Homo sapiens: one gene and its partner. The protein of the gene in region 1 interacts with the protein of each later gene in a pairwise test. Each region holds a gene or a part of one and is shown in the gene's direction. Other genes may lie near its edges.

What was found.
Region 2: the proteins of LRCH1 (region 1) and TMEM14A interact in binary tests that used the Homo sapiens proteins (3 or more experiments, as listed by UniProt).

Annotation. Positions count from the first base shown.
Region 1 is NC_000013.11:46,687,844-46,698,697, forward strand, and holds part of LRCH1 (leucine-rich repeat and calponin homology domain-containing protein 1), read left to right. Parts: intron 1-8; coding exon 9-136; intron 137-1,289; coding exon 1,290-1,353; intron 1,354-4,692; coding exon 4,693-4,798; intron 4,799-7,049; coding exon 7,050-7,174; intron 7,175-10,854. UniProt on the Homo sapiens protein: Acts as a negative regulator of GTPase CDC42 by sequestering CDC42-guanine exchange factor DOCK8. Probably by preventing CDC42 activation, negatively regulates CD4(+) T-cell migration.
Region 2 is NC_000006.12:52,671,458-52,682,311, forward strand, and holds part of TMEM14A (transmembrane protein 14A), read left to right. Parts: intron 1-5,629; 5' UTR 5,630-5,645; coding exon 5,646-5,715; intron 5,716-10,355; coding exon 10,356-10,457; intron 10,458-10,854. UniProt on the Homo sapiens protein: Inhibits apoptosis via negative regulation of the mitochondrial outer membrane permeabilization involved in apoptotic signaling pathway.

The DNA of each region.
Region 1 (10,854 bases):
CTTTGTAGATTTGCACAAAGGGCAAAGTTCACATATTTAAGTATCTGAGCATACAAGCATGCCAGATTAAGACAGCTGACTCCCTTTATCTCCACACCATGGAGAGGCCACATTTACACCAGCACGTGGAAGATGGGTGAGTCATGCCCTCATTCAAAGCCCCAGTTTAAAATTTGCCTAGGCCAAGGCCCTCCAGGTAGCTGACTTCAAAATCTGTTTGTTTTAAGTCACCATGGTATCTGCAGAAAACAAAGCAAAACAGAACAATTTGGTTTAATCACCTAATTTGTATTTAAAACAAGAAGTTGAGAAACTATTGGGATATGAAAGAAAAAACTGCTGCTATTGAGAATATTTTGGTATATCTCAAATATCATCTGTCTCCTAATCAATAATCAGTTCTTCCTGAGTAAATATGTGCATACTTATAAATAAGATCTAGAATACAAATGTGAATATTTTTTACTTATCAAAATAACTATATTGAGCCCAGACATGCCTTTTTAGCAATTATTAATGTTGAATATGCCTCCAGAACAATGTTAAGAAAAAAATGAAGGCTTTATTTTTGGTCTTTTAAAAATGCAGTATGTGTAGTTTTGTCGCCACTTCCTGTTTCAAATGGAAAAGTTAGAACCCTTTCACACATCCTAGAGCTTCTTGTGGCATAAATCAAGCCTTGAGCTTCCAAAAAACAACATTCTCACACTGAACACAGTTATAGAAATGCAGGTTCTTTTTAAGAAGTCTTCACTGCAGAAATCTTTTCCTTCACTTTTTGCTACATAAGTAAATTTAAAATTTTGGACTACTCTAATGTTACTTTTATATAATGCTTAAAATATGTACACTGTTTTATGTACTTAATCCCTGGATAAAAATTTACAGAATTATTGAAAGTAACCACATTTCATAACATAAGGGGTAAAAGCAGTTATGTGGTTTATTAATTTTTTATATGCTAGATGCAGTAAAATAAGAACATTGGTAACTATTTTTAAGAAACACCTTGACATCTAAGAGCAAGCCACTTGATTAGAGCATAAATCCATGAAACCCCGAACACAAAGAATTTTATCTTATCCTGTGTTTAGACTGTGCTACTGTCTGATTTTCATTAGGTCCATGTCTTAATATTCTTTAATACTAGACTGATTTGTTGCCTTATGGTAATAATAAAAATTTGCGTAGCAAAATTATTATTAGAATATAAATTGATGTTTCTTGGTGTGAACTTTGTGATTTTAATCTTTTTTAAATGAATTCAATATTGATGGCATCTATCTCAGCAAGAAGGATTCTGATTCGGGAGTTGGAAGTGATAATGGAGATAAGCGATTATCTGCCACCGAGGTAAAGTTAGTGATCAGATTCTTTTCCTTCTGTACTTCTAGACATATCTACCAGTGTTCATTGAACTCCTTTCTGTTAAAGGGCATCGATTCATTTGTATATTCATGTGATATTCGTAAAAGTGATTTGTATATTCATGTGATTTGAAATCCTCGAAGTGTTATATAAATATTAGCTGTTGTTACTTATTCTGCATCTTTAATATCTTTAATATTTTGTAAATGCCTCAAGAGTGGAGTCTGTATCTTCTCCTCTCCTACACATTATCTAAAATATTATTGAGTGCTCAATAAATATTACAAAATGGCTAAGTAGTACGCAAGTGCCCGTGAAGCACTTTTATACATACGCTTATTTTTCAGTAATAGAGTAATTTAGAAAAACATTGTTATACATATGCGTAAATGTTAAGGAATCAACTGTACATTTTATTTTAATAGTTGATCCACAGGAAATGCATTTATGAGTAGCTATAGTTTTTATAACAATGTTTGTTTTCCTCAGACTCTTAGATTGTGTTCTGTTCTGTTCTGTTCAGTTAATTGGATACAAGTTTGGTTACTTGCAAGCTAACAGGCCTCACACATTAGAACTTCCTATAGTGGTTATAAATCATGCTTTGATAACTGATTTATTATCTCACATGTAGTCTATTAGAGTCCCCAAAATCTAACACTAATGTATCATTAAATGGAGCTTCTTGGCCTCAGGGATCTAGAAAGGAGTGGTAGGAAAAGTATCAGGTGCTCTTCTTTTTTTGAGGGAAGTTACTTTCTGTAGTTACTAAGTTAACATTATAATACTGTGAAATTGCAGTTAATAGGCCAGTCACCCCATCAAAGAAACTCACATTTTTTTCTATGTATGACTCCAGGAAAAAAACCTTTCTCCAATTCTCCTCAAGTCGTTGAATTTTAATAGGTAGCTAAGGTATTTGAATTTATTTTTCACAAAATACTCTATATAGCAGTATATTAAAAAGTGGGATTCTTTATCTTTAAAAATCCTTCTAATATAGAGCATTTTGAAAAGAAGAAGAGTTAGTAGGCAGAGAAGGCCAGTGTCAATAAAAGAAAATAACCCATAGGAAGGCACATGAATAGTTTACCGTGCTTCAGTGGGAGAGAGGGGATACTAAACACATTGCTTTAGTTGCATTTTAATTCATCCTCTTCAACTCCTAAGTCCTCGCAAATGGACCATTGTTTCAGAAATTACTCACCCTAAGTATATTTTCTGTTAAATTAAACAGACTCTGCTTTATCTCTCTTCTAAGGCTAATTAAACTCATTAATAAAACATTACATAAAGAACTTCATTATCCTTTTGTTGTCACTTAAGCATAAGTAGGATGCTAATATCATTCTAAAAGGAGCCCAAGGATTTATTCTGTGCCTTTTAATTAGATGCATATCTTTGGAATTTTGCTAAATTTTTAAGATGAGAGGTGGGTAGAAAGAGAAGGGAATACAGAAAAGATTATATTCAACAGAATGAAATGCACACATCTTGCCTTTGGCCTTTCCTTGTCTTATATTACAGCCTCCTTTCCTAAGTACACCTCCAAGAAATTTATTTTTTAGAGTGATAAGTGTTCCAAATTATCTTACATAGCTTCCTATTTTCACTTGGTTTGGCAAAGATTTTACCATCTATGATCAGGTGATCTTACTTCCCATTTAGATGACATTGTGGGGTTCAGGGATCACACCTCATTCTTTTTCTTTGGCTGCTGCCATTGATTGATTTAGCATTTGTCACTGAGAGATTAAAAACATCTTTTTATCAAGATAAACAGGAAAGTGTGGAGCTCTATGAATATTTGTTGAATGAATGAAATGCATGCCTAATTTCTGCCAGTTTCTAAACAATCTGTGCATATGTCCAAAAGTAAACAAGGACAGACTCTGAAAACCATACCTCAAGAACTTAGGAGCAAGCCACAATCTCCTGAAATGTGTTTTGTGGAGGTTCCTGATTTTTGAGATTTGGAAAGCTATTTCCTAAGTAGCAACAGTAAAATGGAGACATAGGAAAATAAACCAGGCTCCATATTTCAGAATCATAGGTTTTCTGAATAAACGTCATCAGCTACTGTGGGAAAGGAAGCCCTCAGAGAGAACTAATCCAATTATTAAAGCCGAAGCTTTCTTCCAAAAATCACACAGAGCAGTTCTTTTTAACTACTACAGTTGTTTAGCATTTTTATATATGTGATGCAGCTTCCTCAGCCTAAAACAGAGAAATAAAACAGGCACCCGTATTAGTTCATTCTTGTGTTGCTATAAAGAAATGCCCGAGGGTCGATAATTTATAAAGAAAAGAGGTTTAGTTGGCTTACAGTTCTGCAGGCTGTACACAAAGCATGTGACCAGCAACTGCTACTGGCAAGGGCCTCAGGGTTGAAGGTGAAGGGAGTGCCTCCTGTCACATGGTGACAGCCAGAGCAAGAAAGCAACGAGGTTGGGGGAGAGCAACGGAGGAGGTGCCATGCACTTTTTTTTGTTTTTTTAAGACGGAGTCTTGTTCTCTTGCCAGGCTGGAGTGCAGTGGCGCGATCTTGGCTCACTGCAACCTCTGCCTCCCGGGTTCAAGTGATTCTCCTGCCTCAGCCTCCCTTATAGCTAGGACTATAGGTGTGTGCCACCACGCCCAGCTAATTTTTGTATTTTTAGTAGAGATGGGGTTTCACCATGTTGGCCAGGATGGTCTCGATCTCTTGATCTTGTGATCCACCTGCCTCAGCCTCCCAAAGTGCTGGGATTACAGGTGTGAGCCACCACGCCTGGCTGATGCCATGTACTTTCAAACAACCAGATCTCACATGAACGCATAGCAAGAACTGCATAGACCCTTCTTGAGGTATCCACCCCCAAAACCCAAACACTTTCCACCAGGCCCCACCTCCAGCATTGGGGATTACATTTCAACATGAGATTTGGAGGGGACATACATCCAAACTGTGTATCAGTACCTGACAAGATTTCAGCTTAAAACAGAGAGAAGAAAACACAGAGAAGCCCATAAGTGTTAGCTCCATGAATTTTCACAATGTGAACACACCCGTATAACCAGCTTCCAGTTCAAGAAACAGAACTTTACCAGCACCCCAGAAAGCCCCACCCCGACCCCAAGAATAACCTCTTCCTAATTTTAAATACCATGGATTAGTTTTGCATTTTTTGAACTTACATAAGTGGAATTGACCTTTGTATCTGGCAACTTATATTCAATATGATATTTGTGAGAATCACAGGATGTTGTTTTATTACATAGCATTCTCCTTATCTACATTGATAACACTTCTCTTGAGTTAAACAGTGCACTGTATCTTTTTAGCCTTCTGACGAAGACACTGTTAGCCTCAATGTGCCAATGTCAAACATCATGGAAGAAGAACAGATCATCAAGGAGGACTCGTGCCATCGCCTTAGCCCCGTTAAAGGTCTGAGAATAAAAATGTGGAGAAAGTGCTTGTTTTTCAGTTTCAAATGTTATGTTTAAAATAACCTGTGCACAGATAGGGCAGTGATAATCTTTCTAGAGTATGTCCTATGTACCAGGTACTGTGTTCTTCTGGGAAGTTGAGCTGATTTAAAATTTAAAAGTCAAAGATGGATACTCTAATCATCTCCATTTTATAGGTGAGAAAACCAAGACTCAGAGAGTTTAAGTAACTTGCCATTGGTCACATAGCTGATGTGTGTGTAGTACTACTTCCTACGGTACATAGTAGAACTAATCTCATTCTGAAGACTTAGATAAAATTCTTTTTTTTTTTTTTTTTTTGACATGGAGTCTCGCTCTGTCTCCCAGGCTGGATGGAGTGCAGTGGCGTGATCTTGGCTCACCGCAACCTCCGCCTCCTGGGTTCAAGGGGTTCTCCTGCCTCAGCCTCCCGAGTAGCTGGGATTACAGGCACCTGCCACCATGCCCGGCTAATTCTTTAAATCCATTCTTGGAAAGAAAATATTGATATGATAGATATATTAGTTAGGAAAACTCTAGCTGCCGTAACATAGATTCCCAAATCTCTGTGGCTCAACACAATCCAAATTAAGTTCAAATGGAGTTAGTGATTGGCAGACAACTCCCCTCTGAGTATTGATTTAAGGACCCAAGCTCCTTTCATACCATGACTCCATCATCTTTAACACAGGCCTTCCAAAACTTTCATGTCCATCTGTTTTAAGCCAGAAGAAGAGCGTGGAGGTTTGCTCGTGGGAGGTTTTTATGGACTGGGTCTGGAAGGAGTGCCCATCACTGATAAGCTAGACTTCATCCCATGGCCACATCGCACTGCACATGAGGGTGGGAAATGTAGTTGAGGTGTGTGTTCAAGAAGCTACTTGACTTTGGCCCAGTCAGGTGACCTTGATTCCCTCACCTGTACATGAGATGATTAGATTAGGTAATACCAAAGGTCCAGTGTAGCTTGAAAATTCTGTGGCTCTTTAATAATCATCAAATGACCACTAAACACTGTCTTGTGTGCCTTCAAGATCCTTGTAATACGTTTCATATCTTGGTTGGAAGCCCTCATTGGGTAACATTAAGGCGATTTTTTGATTGCCCCTGTTTCCCCATGACTTTTAAGGAAAATACAAGCATTTAGTTTTACTCATTTGTGGCAGAGACTGTTTCACAGTGTATAAATAGTGCAGAACTGGATTAATATACAGATCTTCTCATAAATAGTTGGAATTTGCTCTTATTCATGATAGGAGAGCTGTTTAAGTTCACTCAAACCTTAGTGTTGGCTTTCACTTCTTACACTTCGGTTTTTAAGTTTAGCATTTCTGTTTACCTGAGATTATCATGGGAACCATATGTTGTCTAAAAACATAGCTGTATGCTTTATATACAAATATAACTGCCACTTTATTAATTCATATAAAGTTAGTAATATTATACACTGTAGGAGGTAGTATTTTAGGCAAATTTTTCAAATAAAAGAATTATGTAATTTGTTACTAGTGGGTGTTCCCCCTCTCGTCTAGATGTGGGTATTGCATTGGCTCAGAGTGTTTAAAGGGTGGCCCAGTATGGTTCTTTTTCATCTTCAGAACAGTTGGAAGAGTTCTGCAGGGTGTTCCTTTTGCTCCCCCACCTCCCCTGGAACACATTCTAGGTGGAAGTGCCACATCTGGGCATGCTGTCACCTCTGTGTGGCCCTTCTTGTAGACACTTCTTTTGCTGTTATGATTTGGGGCTCTTGCCTAGTTCCCCTCCCACATTCTTCCTTGAGATTATTTGCTGTTTAAGGACAGGAGTCAGATTTGGCTGATTTTTTAATCCCTAAAATGTTTAGCATAATACCTGCCATTTAGTAGCTGCTCAATATTTGTTGGATTTTAAATATGAAATACATAGTAACATATTACTGAGGGCAAAAAAGCCTCTTTTATACTTTCTTTTCTCCATTCCTTAAAAAAGTAAGAGAAAATCTAATTTTTCTCATAGGGAACTGAGCCCAGAGAGGCCTTGACTTTTTAAGCTCAGTTTGGGGCTTTCTGGGGTTATTTTATTTTTATCTTTTCCTCCCTGCAGGGAAGAGAAAACTTGGGTTTTTCATATACCTTCTTCATAGGGAACACAGAAGACTTGAAGTGATTAGATCATATTTGAAGATCAGCTGTGTTTTGCTCTTCTGTTCATGAAATCATGCTTTCCATCTCTCTATATTTTCCTAATAGGGGAATTTCATCAGGAATTTCAACCGGAGCCTTCCCTTTTGGGTGACAGCACCAACTCAGGAGAAGAAAGAGACCAGTTTACTGATAGAGCAGATGGTCTCCATTCGGAATTTATGAACTATAAGGCAAGATTTTCAGGATCAACTACGTTTTTTTACTTATTTCCTTCTGTTTGGCACCGTACAATTTAAGTTGAAGGTTGCCAATCCATCCCCTTCAATGTCCAGCTTGCTGCACCCTCCCTGAAGCGTTCCAAACATCTCAGCGCTCAGCGTGTCTATTTGCTGATGTGAGGAGCTGGTCCCTGCCCTGTGTGCCTCTCCATTTGTCTGTTTATGGATCTGATTTTCTTTCCGCTACTCAGTGCATCGTACAAATTAGCAAACTCATTAGTGTGACCATTGCCACGCAGTAAAAGCTGAAATAGTTTCACATTCTTTTCAACATGTTCTAGGTAAATCCTTTTCTTGGGAGTATATTTATAGTGTGAAGACAAAAGTGGAGACTTTTAAAATTGATAAATGAATGTCTTTCCTTTTTGGAAAGATCTCTCTGAGGACACTTATTCCTGAACTTTTGTAGGTGCCCCGAGGCATTGAAAGGACAGGTGAAGTTGCCGAGTTGTCAGGAAAACCTTCATCTTGGCAGCAACAAAGGGAGGAAAGAAAAATTAGCCCTTTACTGAAGCAGATACTGAAGGTTCTACTTCACAACCCGATTAGGTGCTTGGTATGTTTCTGCCAGCCCTTTTGGTTCAGGTTGTGGTGCCCAAGAATCATAAAGATTATTGTTTTTGTAAAATTCAGATTCACTGTGGCTTCGAGGTAACTTCTGAGTTATTATGTTGAAGCCAAGAATGGGATCCCTAAGTACTCATCTTTATTTTCTGAGCATTGTGTCCTGATGGCTGGACCCAGCCTAAATTAACATCTCTGGGCATCACCTTCAAGGAAATGGAGAGGAAAACAGCTGAATTTTACACTGTAGGAGACCTTCGTGTGCTCAGGACATGTTTATGGCCTCCAGATAAAAATAATGAACGTGACATATGTTTATAGATTACAGAAGTTGTGTAGAAGGATAAAACACAGTCTTAACTCTTTACTTGCTATATTTAATGTCATTAATCCATACATCCTTGTTTTAAAATAGGTCACACCCATTGCCTTGTTTCTGTCCCCTGTCTCCATTGACATTGCTTCATTTGAGCCTCATAGTTTCTCACTTTGATTACTTCAGGCACCACCCCGCCCACTCCACTTCTTACCCAATGCTGCACCCGCGTGCATGCATGCATGTGTGTACACACACACACACACACACACACACACACACACACACTCTTTATATTCTGCCACCAAACATTTTTCTAAAGTGCAAATCTAATGACATTCCTCTCAGGCCACTGGTTCTACAAGGCTTCCCCAGATTAGACCCTATCTATCAGCTCTGTGGGACGATTCTTCCATGAAAATGTGAAAATTGGAGTATATCGAGCATTCATCTTAAGTTAAGAATCTAAGGTAAAGATGGAAACCCTGAAGAATGTGTTAAGAAGATATCAATATTTAAGTTCTAGAGGAAACAAAGCAGTTAGTAAGAATAAAGCGTATTGTTTCAGGAAAGCAAATTTCCCTGGATTCAGAGATTTCAAGGACTTCCTGGAAATGGCTGCCCTACAGAATGGGTCCTGTAGATGGAAACTAGAGGAGCAGATAGGCGTGTGGAAGTCAACTTGGCAAAGGCTTTCTGGAAGATACTTCTCTTGGAAAATCAAAAGAAAAATGTTAATGATAAAATGAACATCTACAACAAGTTAAGGAAAAATTGTGCTTGAAAATCAGGCCCGTATTAGGCTTGATATCCATCAACTTTAAGTCTTTCAACCTGTGCTTGGCCTGGCGGAGTGAATCACACCTGTAATCCCCCACTTTGGGAGGCTGAGGCAGGAGGATCACTTGAGCCCAGGAGTTCAAGATCAGCCTGGGCAACATACTAAGATTCCATCTCTACAAAAAAACAAAAGCTAGCTGGGTGTGGTGGTGTGCTCCTTGAGTCTCAGCTACTCAGGACACTGAGGAGGGAAGATCACTTGAGCTTGGGAGAGTGAGTCTTCAGTGAGCCATGACTGCACCACTGCACTCCAGCCTGGGTGAAAGAGTGAGACCCTTTCTCAGAAAAACAGAGTTCTATGCTTTACATAATCCTGTTTTCTTTACTGAATAAGCATCTTGGACCTTTGCAACCACAGTCAATTTTCATTATTCACAGCAGTTATGTTGTGTGACATCACTGTGCATATCGAATTATCCAATACTGAGCCCTAACTCACTGGGGAAATAGAGGGCTGGGTTCCTGCACCCTCTGCTCACAACGTTTTTGTCAACCAATCAGCACACAACCTTGGTGTGTGTGTATTTCTGTTTAAAGATACCTTATTTAATATATATTGTTTTGATGAACATTACAACCATACCTTATTTAACATATATTGATTGATGAACATTACAACCAACAGCACTGTAACTCATGCCCGAAGGAAGCTTGTCTAACACACGTATTGTCCTCTGTAAGGCATATCACAACTTCCTTGGGCTTCTGAACACAAGGCAGCACTTCAGTACTATGTCTGGGGCCATTTTAAAGTGAAATCACCAACAAAAAACACAACAGTGTGAAAACATGGCACTAACTAGACTGTGAAAAAGGACACTTATTTACAATAAGAGAGCTGAAAGAAGAAAGCAGAGTGTCACCTTGTTCCACCTCATCTGGGAACATACACATCCTGGGACTCAAATTTTTTACCACTCTGTAGATGTCTGCAGATGACCTCCAGAGCACCACGAATACTGGTTTTGGGACTAAAAATACATGTTGGTGAATAGGCAAATTCACAAATGCAGAATCCACAGATAATGAGGATCAACTGTAAAACCATTTAGCTTAGCAAAAGCAACCCAGTACGCCTGTTTTGCCTAATGAAAAAAAGAGACATTTTATACTATTGGCTACTTTTAGTTGTGAAACAAAAAAATAAAAAGAAATACCCTTTGCTTCTATCATTGAAACCCAACAAAACGAAGTAAGAACACGTTGTCTTGGTCATTTCTGGTAGTATATTTTTACCCATGAATTTTTCTGTCATTTGGAGTGTGGAGAGTGGCACAGTCTTTTATACGTTGACTGTATTGTACATGAAAAGTATAATCACTACAGAAAAAGTCCAAGTGTGTTCCCAGCCAGAGTCCAGCATTGGGCAGCTAGCCATGTCCTTGGGAAAAGTCTTGTCCTAACAACACATCTGGAGGACTGGCTGGTCCCCAGTTAGCTAATGATATGCCAGAACCTTGACACCAAAAATGGTCCTTTTGGCTGGTGTTCTCTCCTAGCTAGGGAAATGTGGCCCTATTCAGGCTGGCTTTCATTCTAGCCATGAGCTGGGTTAAAGCAGCGTTTCTCTGTGTCAGAGATGAACGTGCAAGGAGGCCTGTGGAAGGCTCATGGTGGTACATGACTTTCCAAATAGCCAGTGTCACTACATTGCCGCTTTGGGAAAAAGTGGGGTGACAGTGCAGGGAGAACATTTGAGTGATTCTGGATGTTGTACACGTGAAAACTATTAGATGCAATCAGAAGCACTTTTCTGTTGTTAAGAATGTTACACTTTCTCTTTTCCCCACTACACACATATGCGTGCACACTCACACTTAAACACACATCCCTGCTCTCACAAACACTAGGATGCATCTTCACAGGTGACCCACAAGCACAGGAGAGGGATCTCTCAATACAAGAAGGTGCT
Region 2 (10,854 bases), on another chromosome or scaffold:
GGTATCCCTAAATATCCCACCTATCCTGCCTCCTACCTTCCTGGATCTGGGGTGGTGGGGTGGGCTCATGGACCATTGCAAAATGCTTGGCAGGATTTTAACCTTCTCAGCACCACCCAGACCCCACTCGAAAATGTGCCTTTTGTGCCCTCCAAGAGCTCAAGGGTAGGTAATTGTTATATCTTTAGCATGTGAAAATGCTTTTTATGTAACAGTTCACCGAAAATCTCTTAATTCTCCGAATTTTGGAGGATTTGGGGCGGGCAGCGAGGCTGTCCCCTGTCACCTTGTTTTGTACCTGGTATGGTAAATCGTTTTGCTGCATTGCATCCAAGATGCGTTTTAGTCCTTCCAAGGCTTGAGCATCACATTTGTGATGAGAGCGTGTGATGTGCTGTGCACATCCTCTCCCACCTTATCCCTTCCATGTTAACACAGCCTCTGGCTTTAATGTGTGCTTCTGGCCTGGCCACATGGCTCCGTCATGGAATAGGTGATTCTTTTGTCTGAATATTCTCTGTGAGAACAGAATCTTCTTGCAAGCATTGGGAGTAGATTTATTTTGCCTCTTTAGAACAACAGTCAGTTCGCTAAGGAGATTAAGGGGCTACCTGTTTCCTGGCAATAAAGCTGTATTGGGTAGGTCAGTTACAGAATGTCTTCAGGCAGAAGCTGTTCCTTTGGTTCACTCACTCATTTATTCATTTAACAAGTATTTTAAGTACCTGCCTTGTGCATGGCAGGGTTCTTGGTGCTGTGAGGAGGACAAAGATAAACTGAACCTTGGTTTGCCCTCAAGGAGCTTGGCTGGCTGAGAGTTGAGAGAATCCCAACCAAGTAAAAGGGTATGGGTCCTCAAGAGAAGATCGCAGGAAGAGCTGGGGGGCTCAGGATGGAGTGGAATTAATCTTTCACAACAGCTACTTAGCTTTAGGAGAAAATTAGGTCTAGAAGTTACACCTGATAATGAAAGAACTCTCATAAGCTTCAGATCTGTATGTAAGGGTGTTTTCCGGACTGTGTGTTGGGCGTCTCAGACTGAATACATTCTAAACAGGTCCCATCATTCCTAGCCACCTCCCTCTTCCCACCGCCACACACCTGCTGCTGTTCCCATGTTCTCTGTCTCAGGGAATAGCATGAGGCTCCCCGACTCCCTACTTCTCCTAATGGTCTAAGCCAGATACCTAGGGGTGAGTCATCTCTGATTCACCCCTGACTTTCCCTTCCCGCCTCAAATTCAATTCTGATTCTACCTCCTGAACTTCTGAAATCTGTCCACCTTCTCTCCATTCTCATTGCCATTTCTCTAGATAAGCCTACCGTTATCAACTAAGCTCTTGCTTACTTTACTGCAACAGCTTCCCGATTTATCTCCCTGCCTCACTTCACAACCCATCTTCACTACTGCAACTGGGAAGTGCTTGCTGGAATTTAAATCTGATTGTGAGGCTCCCTTCAGTGATCCTTCATTGCCCTTAGGACGGAACCAGACTCCCTTTACGGGGCTTATGTGGGTGTACAGCCCTGTCTTTCTCACCAGCACCCTCTCTTTTCACAAGCCCCTTGCACTTTTCATTTTGAGAACATGCTTTCTTGTGCCATTAGGGCCTTGCACATGCGCTCCCTTCTGCCAGGAACACCCTTCCCTGCACCCTCTTCACTTGACTTATTCATGCTCCCCTGTAGGGTAAATGCACCTGACAGCAATAATTAAAGCATACCCTTAGAATGACCCTGTGTGGCAGATGAACCTGAATGTGTTTTCTGAACTAGGGAACCCAGGCCTGCCCAACCCAGAGATTTATTTCTTGTCTATGAAGAACATCTGAGCCCCTGCCCCACCTGTCCCATAGAACAGGGGCCATACGGGGAATTGAGGCCTTGAATTTTGAGTTAAATCAAGTTGCCAGGTAGAGGTCATTGAGGGGAGGGTGTTAAGTGAAAATGCTGCATAAATTGCATGATGTTTGCAAGCGGTTGTTTTCCTGCCCAGCTCACCACCACTGGACTCCCTCCTCTGTTTGTAAGCCCCTAATGGGTCTCTTTTGGCCTCTTGAACCTGTTGCCTTCCTTATTGAGGTTAATAGGGGTTTGGCACAACATCTCTCCAAGGTCCCAGCTGGGACCCTGTTTGATCTGGGCATCCTTAGGCTCCCAGTCCTTGCTGGGTGCCACTCCTTGTTATGGTACCCACACCTCTCCTCTTAGGGCTCATTCACACATCTGCCTCCTACAGCTGTGTTGTACTATAGTTCCTGGAGGACCAAGGCCATGTCTTAGCACTTACCATTGCTTCCTGCTGCCTTGCCTAAAGAAAATGCTAAATAAATAGCTGTTAAGTCGAATTGACTACAAATATATGTTATAATACTATGGTATGATTCATTAACTAAATTACAAATTCACCCTACCTCAGTTTTCTCAGTGTGCTGAAATAGTAATAGCCTTACACATGTCAAGCTTAAAATAGGTGTAAGGGTGAATGAGAAGAGTAATCATTGGAGCAGCTAATATTTGTTGAGTGCTCAGTATGTGCAGGCACTGTTCTAAGTGCTTTACAGTATTAAATCATTTAATTCTCAGAACAATCCTATAAGGTAGATATTTTTGTTATCCCTATTTTAAAGATGGAGAAACTGAGTTATTGAGGTTCCACAGCTAGTAAGTGGTGGTATCAGGTTTGAAGATAAGCATACTTTATAGCATATGGTTAGCTCCTTTAGAAAGATAATAAGTAGGATCAAACATGAGAAGTTCATGGGGCTGAACATTGTAAGTTACCAGATGGAACACAGTGCCCTGTGGTCACAACTTTAAGCTATGAAGAGCATGTGATTGATCCAGAATTGAAAACTCTGAAGAACATGTTTGGTTTACATGTTCGCTTTTTTTCAGCAGCTAACTCAGTTATCAGAGGTGATGTTGCATAGAGGTTAGGACTGAGACTTCCCTAAGTCAGAGATCTTTGTTTTGCTGTATAACCTTCAGGCATTGCTTGCATTCTCTGTGTGCCACTTTCCTCATCTGGAAAATGAGGATAATCATGACAGTACATACCATAGGGTGTGGTCATGATTACATGAGTTGATACACATAAGGCACCTAGAATGCCTTAGAATGGCACCTAGCACATAGTAATTGCTCAAAAACATTATAACCTCTTTATTATTATTATTTGTTTAGCCATCATTCAGTCAGCAAATGGTTTTTGGACCCAGGTTCTCCCTACATGCTACATCCTACTGTACCACTTCTCGGCCACAGATGAGCTCTCCTGTTTTAATTCTCCTTCCTGCAGATGATGAGCATTTTTCAGTGTTGCCTCCTTTTTGGTGCTGTCATCTCCTGTGCCTCAGCTTCCCTCCCCCATACCCTTCCTCATAGTAAGTTCTAGTGGATGACTCTGAGATCAGCTCAAAATTCTTCTTCTTTTTTTTTTTTTTTTTTTTTGAGACGCCCAGGCTGGAGTGCAGTGGCACGATCACAGTTGATTGCAACCTCTGCCTCGCAGGTTCAAGGGATTTTCCGGTCTCAGCCTCCTGAGTAGCTGGGATTACAGACATGCACCACCATGCCACGTCCGGGTAATTTGTTGTATATTTAGTAGAGAAGGGGTTTCACCATGTTGACTGGGCTGGTCTCAAACTCCTGACCTGAAGTGATCCACCAGCCTCTGCCTTCCAAAGTGCTGGGATTACAGGCGTGAGCTACCTCGCCTGGCCCCTTTTTATGTTCTACATTAATTTATTACCAATTGATAATGGGAGATAAAAGGCCCATTAACCTAAATGATAAGCAATGAGAAAATTGTAAAAATATGCAAGGAATCTCACTTACCATTCCTCACATTTACAAAGATAATTACCTTCCCTGTGGAAGAAATATAGACGTGAGAAAGCTCAGAAATAAAGGCACCACTAGGGGTCTTAGAACTTAAAAAGCTGTAAAGAACTCCAGAACTCTTTTCATCTATTCTCCTAACTTGCAGGGAGAGTTGAGGGTGAGGGAGGGGCATGGTCTGAGGCCCAGTGGCCACATCTCTAGCCTGTGGCTGGCACGCTATCTACTGCATCTGAGAGAATTGTGGGCAGGGTTTCAGTGGAACTTCTCACCACTGGGTATGTTTCAGCTGCTGCTATGATGCACAGTAGGATGTCATTGTCATCCATTTAACTTCATGCTGGGGCTATATTGTATTCTTTAGTGATTTGCCATTGATTAAGTGTGGATGTCTCTGCTACCACAGAAGAGCTATCTTGCAAGGAAACTAATGACAAAGCCATTGTTTAAACTGAATTAGTCAATCTCCAAGAAGACATCCATCTGTAAAGAATGAGAGGACTAATATCTGTACAGACATGAAAGAATTATAAGATGGAATTGTGGAAGTTAAGGAATTTAGAGGAGGAAGAAGGCATTTGCTCCAGATCACTTTGATAGTACAGACTAGAGTCAAGGAAATTAGGAGGTAATTAATAAGGGTAGAAGTCAGGGGAGAAGGTTTAAAGGGAGGTGGCATACAGGGGATAGTCGGGCTTTTGGAGGTGGACAGGGAGGGAGGACATTTCAGGCATGGAAGTGAAAAGTGAAGATTGTAGTGTCACAGTTCAGTGAAGAGACCTGGCTGACCAGAGCAGAAGTTTTATTTGGGTAAGTGGAAAGAATTGAACAGCTGAGAGTATGGCAGATCTTGAAGACAGGCAGAGGAGAATCAGCTTGAGGTACCCCCCAGAGTGTGCTTAACAGTGATGAGGATGAAGGGGAAAGTAGAGGGTTGGGAGAGGTGAAGTTTGAACCTCTTTTTTCCCTTGAGACAGGGTGTCACTCTGTCATCCAGGCTGGAGTGCAGTGGCACAATCACGGCTCATTGCAACCTCAACCTCCAGGGCTCAAGCAATCCTCCCAACTCAGCATCCTGAGTAGCTGGGATCACACGTGCATGCCATCACACCCAGCTAATTTTTTGTATTTTTACTAGAGATGGGGTTTTGCCATGTTGATCAGGTTGGTCTCAAATTCCTGGGTTTAAGCCATCTACCTGCCTTGGTCTTCCCAAGTACTAGGATTACAGGCGTGAGCACCATGCCTGGCCGAACTTCCCTTTCTTTAGTAGACTAGAGAAATTAATTTCTGTAATTCTGTGGAATGTCTTTGTATTAGTCATTCTCACACTGCTCTAAATAACTACCTGAGACTCGGTAATTTATGAAGAAAAGAGGTTTAATCAACTCAACTTCCGCAGGCTGTACAGGAGGCGTGGCTGGAGAAGCCTCAGGAAACTTATAATCATGGTGGAAGGCAAAGGGGAAGCAAGCATGTCTTCACATGGCGACAGGAGGGGGAGAGCACGTGAAGGGGGAAGTGCTACACGCTTTCAAACATCCAGATCTTGTGAGAACTTTAGATCATGGAACAGCACTAGGGGGATGTTGCTAAACCATTAGCAGCCACCCCCGTGATCCAGTCACCTCCCACCAGGCCCCACCTCCAACACTCAGGATCACAATTCAACATGAAATTTGGGTGGGGACACACAGCCAAACCATATAAGCGTATCATTTTTAGATACATTCCCTCCCCAAAACTTTTTTATTTTGTATAATTTGTCCTTTCCCCCTTGCTTTAGAATTGCAACCTTGCCAATGGACCTGATCGGTTTTGGTTATGCAGCCCTCGTGACATTTGGAAGCATTTTTGGATATAAGCGGAGAGGTAAGCCTAACCCAAATTTTCATGAAAGGGAATTAGTGGGGGTTTGGAGGTTGTGCTAGGTCATGTGAGGCTCTGTAAGTAGGATGAGAAGCTAAAGATGCCTTAGAGGTGGCTGAAGACCAGCGTGTCTTGGAAGGGACTCATGAAAGGAAGAGGCTTCCGTGGGGCTGAGCATGACAGAGTGTTCCAACCTGGGGGTTCTGGGCCTCTCTTCCACCACAAAACTCTCACTTCACTTCATCATCAGTTGCATAGTTAATTGATTTAATCTCCCTCAGGACCACTGCTTATTATTAAATGAGGATTTTTTTTTTTTGCTTTACATAATCGTGGTACCAAAAAACTGAGTTATATTGATCCTGTGTGTTGTAATGAAAACATTGTTAAATATTCAGTTATCATATCCAAAGTTGTCTCTTCACCTTTGTCCAAAAGAGGGGGGAAAAAAACTCAGGTAATCAATTAAAGAGTTTTCATGGAGAAAAAGGAAAGGTCAAATTTTTTTATTTTACTTTTATTTTAGAATCATTTATAGTTATGATGTCTCCTAGTTATGTTTCATATATATACACAACCTTTAGTCATCTTTCTGACAAACTGTCTCTTACGTTTTAATGACATTTTTTAAATGAAGTTTTTTATTTCAAAGGGTATTGTATTTGTGGCAGTGGTTGACTTGAATTTGAGTGAAAAAGCCAGGTCTACATGGTTACCAGTTAGCTTCCTTCCTTAAAGGCTGCTAAGAAGTCAAAGACCAGAAGCACCGTATAGCTCTTGTAGCTGGGGGGCTGGCAGGTAGAATTGACCATCATCTACGATTCCTTAAAGCCTGTAATTCACCTTGGATTTTTGTTCGTTGTTTCTGTCTTAATGTATGTATTAGAGATGTGTATTTGAAGGAAAAAAAAAGATGATGGCACCAAAGTAAGACCTGTAAACCAAGTACTCAGAGGTTGATGTTTCACAATCTACTTTAGAAAGAACTCAGTTTAAAATGCTAAGATTGTTTTTGAAAAAAAATTTTCACTGTCAAAGACAATGTCTAAATAACTTCTATTACAGAACAGAAAAGAACATCTGGGCATTTTTGCCTGCCTTTATGAGAGGTGGAAAGAAAGTGGGGAGAGAGATATAGAGAGTGTGTGTATGTGTGTGTTTGTGTGTGTGTGTGTGTGTGTGTGTGTGTGTGTGTGTGTGTGGAAGGAATCATTTTATTCTAACTCACATCTCTTCATTGTTTACCAGCTGGTGGGAACAAATGAAATTACATTAGCTGTGAGGTCTCTGATTTCAAGGGCTTGTTGTCCACCTGCACAATATGGTTTCTTGGCCTCCTGCAAGAGCCCCCTACTAAGTGATCCTGGAAGCCCCCAAGGGTATTATGGGTTCACAAGGAAGCTCACTTTGTAGTATAATGTGGGTTAAAAGCATGGGCCACAGAATCAAGCATTCCTGCATTCCAGTCTTGACGCTGCCACTTACCAGCACTGATACTCAGGTGAGATGTTTCAACATCTGGGCCTCAGTTCCTCACCTGTAAATTAATCTGTTAGGATTAAATAAGATGATGCATGGTACACATTTCACATGGTGCCTGGCATAGAATAAAGTTTTAATCTTCTTGTTTTTTTCTGCTGCTACTGCCCTGCCAGTGGGAGGTCTGTGAGCCATGAGGCATAATACCTTTTTCTAGTTTTGTACTCTAGTTTTGTATTATGTTCTAAGCTGCCAGTGGCTCGAATGTCTTAGAATGTGTGTGTAAAGTGAGTTAACTCTCCTTTGACTTAGAGCTTCCCTAGGTATGAGTCCTATGTAGCTGGGCCAGGAGACCCTTCTACGGGACAGTTATTGAGAATAATCTTGGGTCGGTGAAAGATGTGATGTCGAAATGGTGTTTAGTGGGAGGACACAGATGTATCCAAATCCTAAACTAGACCAGCTGTGAGACACAAGTTGGGTTAAACGGAGAAGCTGATAGATTTTTATTTTGATGGGGGTACAGTGGGGAGAGAGGGCAGCCAGTGGCGGGACACAGGATGCTGAGCACTGTGCTTGCCTGGGCTCACCCCTCCTCCCAGGTAGGTCTCCAGAGAGGTGGATGACCAAGAAGATGCTATGATATGGAGGCTCTTCCTAGGCCAGGTAACATCGAGTGCCCAGAGTGAAAGAGGGCCAGATGGCATTCCCTGCCTTGTCCCACACTAGGGCTGAACCAGACCTTACACCTTCCTACTCCAGTTGAAGGGAAGGGCACTGACACAGCAATCCCTTCAGAGAGGTGCAGGTGTGCTTGCTGGGCAGGCTGCTATTTGGACGACCATAAGAGCACCTGCAGGGAAGCTCCCAGATGCATCTTTCAACTCTTTTTAAAACTCCTCTTCCAAGACTGCCCCACCCAGATCAGGCATCCCAGGAAGTGGGAAGGAAAAGAGCTTAGAGCTCCTTTTCTTGTAGCCCCCACTATGGGTCACTGAGCTTGTTCTCAGGATCTTTGCTTTCTTCCACCAGCGTGGTTTTCTTGTAAAACAGCCCACAGTCCTGCCACCTTCCTCAGGCAAGATGAAATGTCTCAAGAACCTTCCTGGTTCTTGCTGCTGGTGAGCCTGCCCCTGCTGTTTGCTGTCTGATCTCATCAAGACTGAAGTGTAGACACTGCCACTTTCTCCACATACTTAAGTGTGCGTGTTTGGTGGTGGTGGGGAGGGTGGGGTGGGGTGATCCTAACAGTAAATAAACCTTCAGGGTATACAGAAAGGAGCATCATAGAATCTCTAGGTGAGAAGACACCTTAATGGTCACCTAGTTGTGCATTTCAGAAAGTGTTTTAATCTCCTTAATATCCTTATCTGGTATCTTCTGCTTGAACATGACCCATAATAGGGGTGCATTAAATCAGTATTTATCAAGTGCTCCTATGTACCTGGCCCTGTGTCTCGCCCTGGGGAAACAGCAATCGCTCACAAGTGAGTAAGGGCAGACTGACATTCAATCCATGAACAGCATATAAACATATGATCAGGAATAGCGGAAGACTATGATGGGGGCCCTTGTTCAGAATGGTGGGTTGGAGAAGACAACACTTAAGCAGACATCCGAAGGTGAGCTACACTTGGCCAAGTGAACAGTGCAGAGACAAGCAGTCTGCACAAGGAACAGTATGTCTGAAAGCCATGACGAATAGAGTTTGGTATATTCAGAGAACTGAAAGAAGGCCAGGGTTCCCACAATATAGCAAACTGGATTATTTTTCCTAAGAGCTTTGGGAAGCACTAAGGTTTTTAATTAGGAGAGTGACCTGTCCAGATGTATGTTTTTAAAAGATCATCTTACTGTGTTTGAAGAATAGCTTTTGGGGGAAACAATGTGTAATTTAACATTATCTCCAACTGTAACATTCTAAGCCACTATATATTTATATATTTATATATATATATATATATGTATATATATGTGTATATATATATGTGTGTATATATATGTGTGTGTATATATATGTGTATATATATATATACATATATGTATATATATATATACACATATATATATGGCATGGATGATTAACCCCGTTTTACAACTGCTAAAACTTAGAGAGGCTAAGTGACTTAGCCAGAGTCCTTTAGCCAGCAAGTGAAAGAATTAGGAGTAGAACCTAGCGTGTTTGTCTTCTCATTCAGAATGCTGCTCTGGTGTGTGTGTGTGTGTTGTGTGTGTGTGTTTGTGTGTTGTATGTGTTGTGTTTGTGTGTTTGTGTGTGTGTGTGTATTGTGTGTGTATGCATGCATGTGCTGCAGTGGTTCTTAACCCTGGCTGCACATTTGAATTTCCAATGGATATTTTAAAAATGAGATGCTTTGACCCTACCCCCCAGGGATTTTAACCTAACAGATTCTAAATAGGGTGAGTTCCATGAAGCAAGGATTGTGTGTGTCTTATTCATAGTGTCACTGCCATGTAACCCACTGTCCAGTGCACAGAAAGTGCTTGGTGTTTGCCACAGTGCTCTGGGGTGGGTATGTGGGTTGGGGGCTGGGAGTGTACTGGTGGGGTGAGTGCATGGGATAGGGACTGGGTAGCTGGGGTCAGTATTCTGATTCTTCGTCTTTCTTGGTAGGGCCTCTATTAGTCCTTGAGTCCTGACATCTTGAGGCATGAAGGTTTGTTAATTATTCAGGATGGAACCATTGCTTGGTTTGTATAGCACTTCTGTCTTTACCTCTATAAACTAAAACTACCTTTGCATCTTAGTTTTTATCATCACAACCTCATTGCAAAAAGGAGGCAAAGAGAATAGGAAAAATTAAAAAAGAAGGGCTTAAGGAAGTTAAATAATTGTCCAAGATCATGTAATCAGTGTCCAAGCCACCAGAACAAGGCAGGTTTTCTTATTTCCCCAAGTGACATCTAACCCCACTGCACTGCTGTGCCCTCAGGGCTCCTCTGCCTTGCATTTGGGTTCAGCAGGAAACAGTCATCTCCTAGAAAGTATCCATGAAGAGGCCTATTCTTAATTTGGCTTTGTCCAGTTACTGTGCCCAAGTAGGAATACATTTGAAGGTGCCTGTATCATACTAGAAGTAATGGAATGAATTCCTTTCCTTTTGGGATTCTCTTTGTGATCTCATATTTTTTTCCCCTTCCAGGTGGTGTTCCGTCTTTGATTGCTGGTCTTTTTGTTGGATGTTTGGCCGGCTATGGAGCTTACCGTGTCTCCAATGACAAACGAGATGTAAAAGTGTCACTGTGTAAGTAAGGCATTTTTCCTGGTTACAGAGACTCAAACATTGGAGGTGATCTTTTTGATACCCTATGCTAGATATACTAGAACATATTTAGTCAAATGGCAAATGGCCATATGCATGTGTTGAGGCTGAATACAACACTTATTCCTTTCTAGAAAGACCTGATAAAAAATGATGGTACTGCTACCAGGCCTTCCAACTCAGAAGAATATTTCTATAAAAACTCGTTACTAGAAAAATTGAATTAGGAAAAGCAAGGAATTATTTTCAGATTTTCTGCTAACTCTCCTAAATGCATATTTAGCATAGTTTTTACATTGCTGTGGAAATAACTAAAAAAGAGACAGCCTTGCATTATTTCATTTAATTCACAAACATCTTTTAGATTCTGCACTGCCTT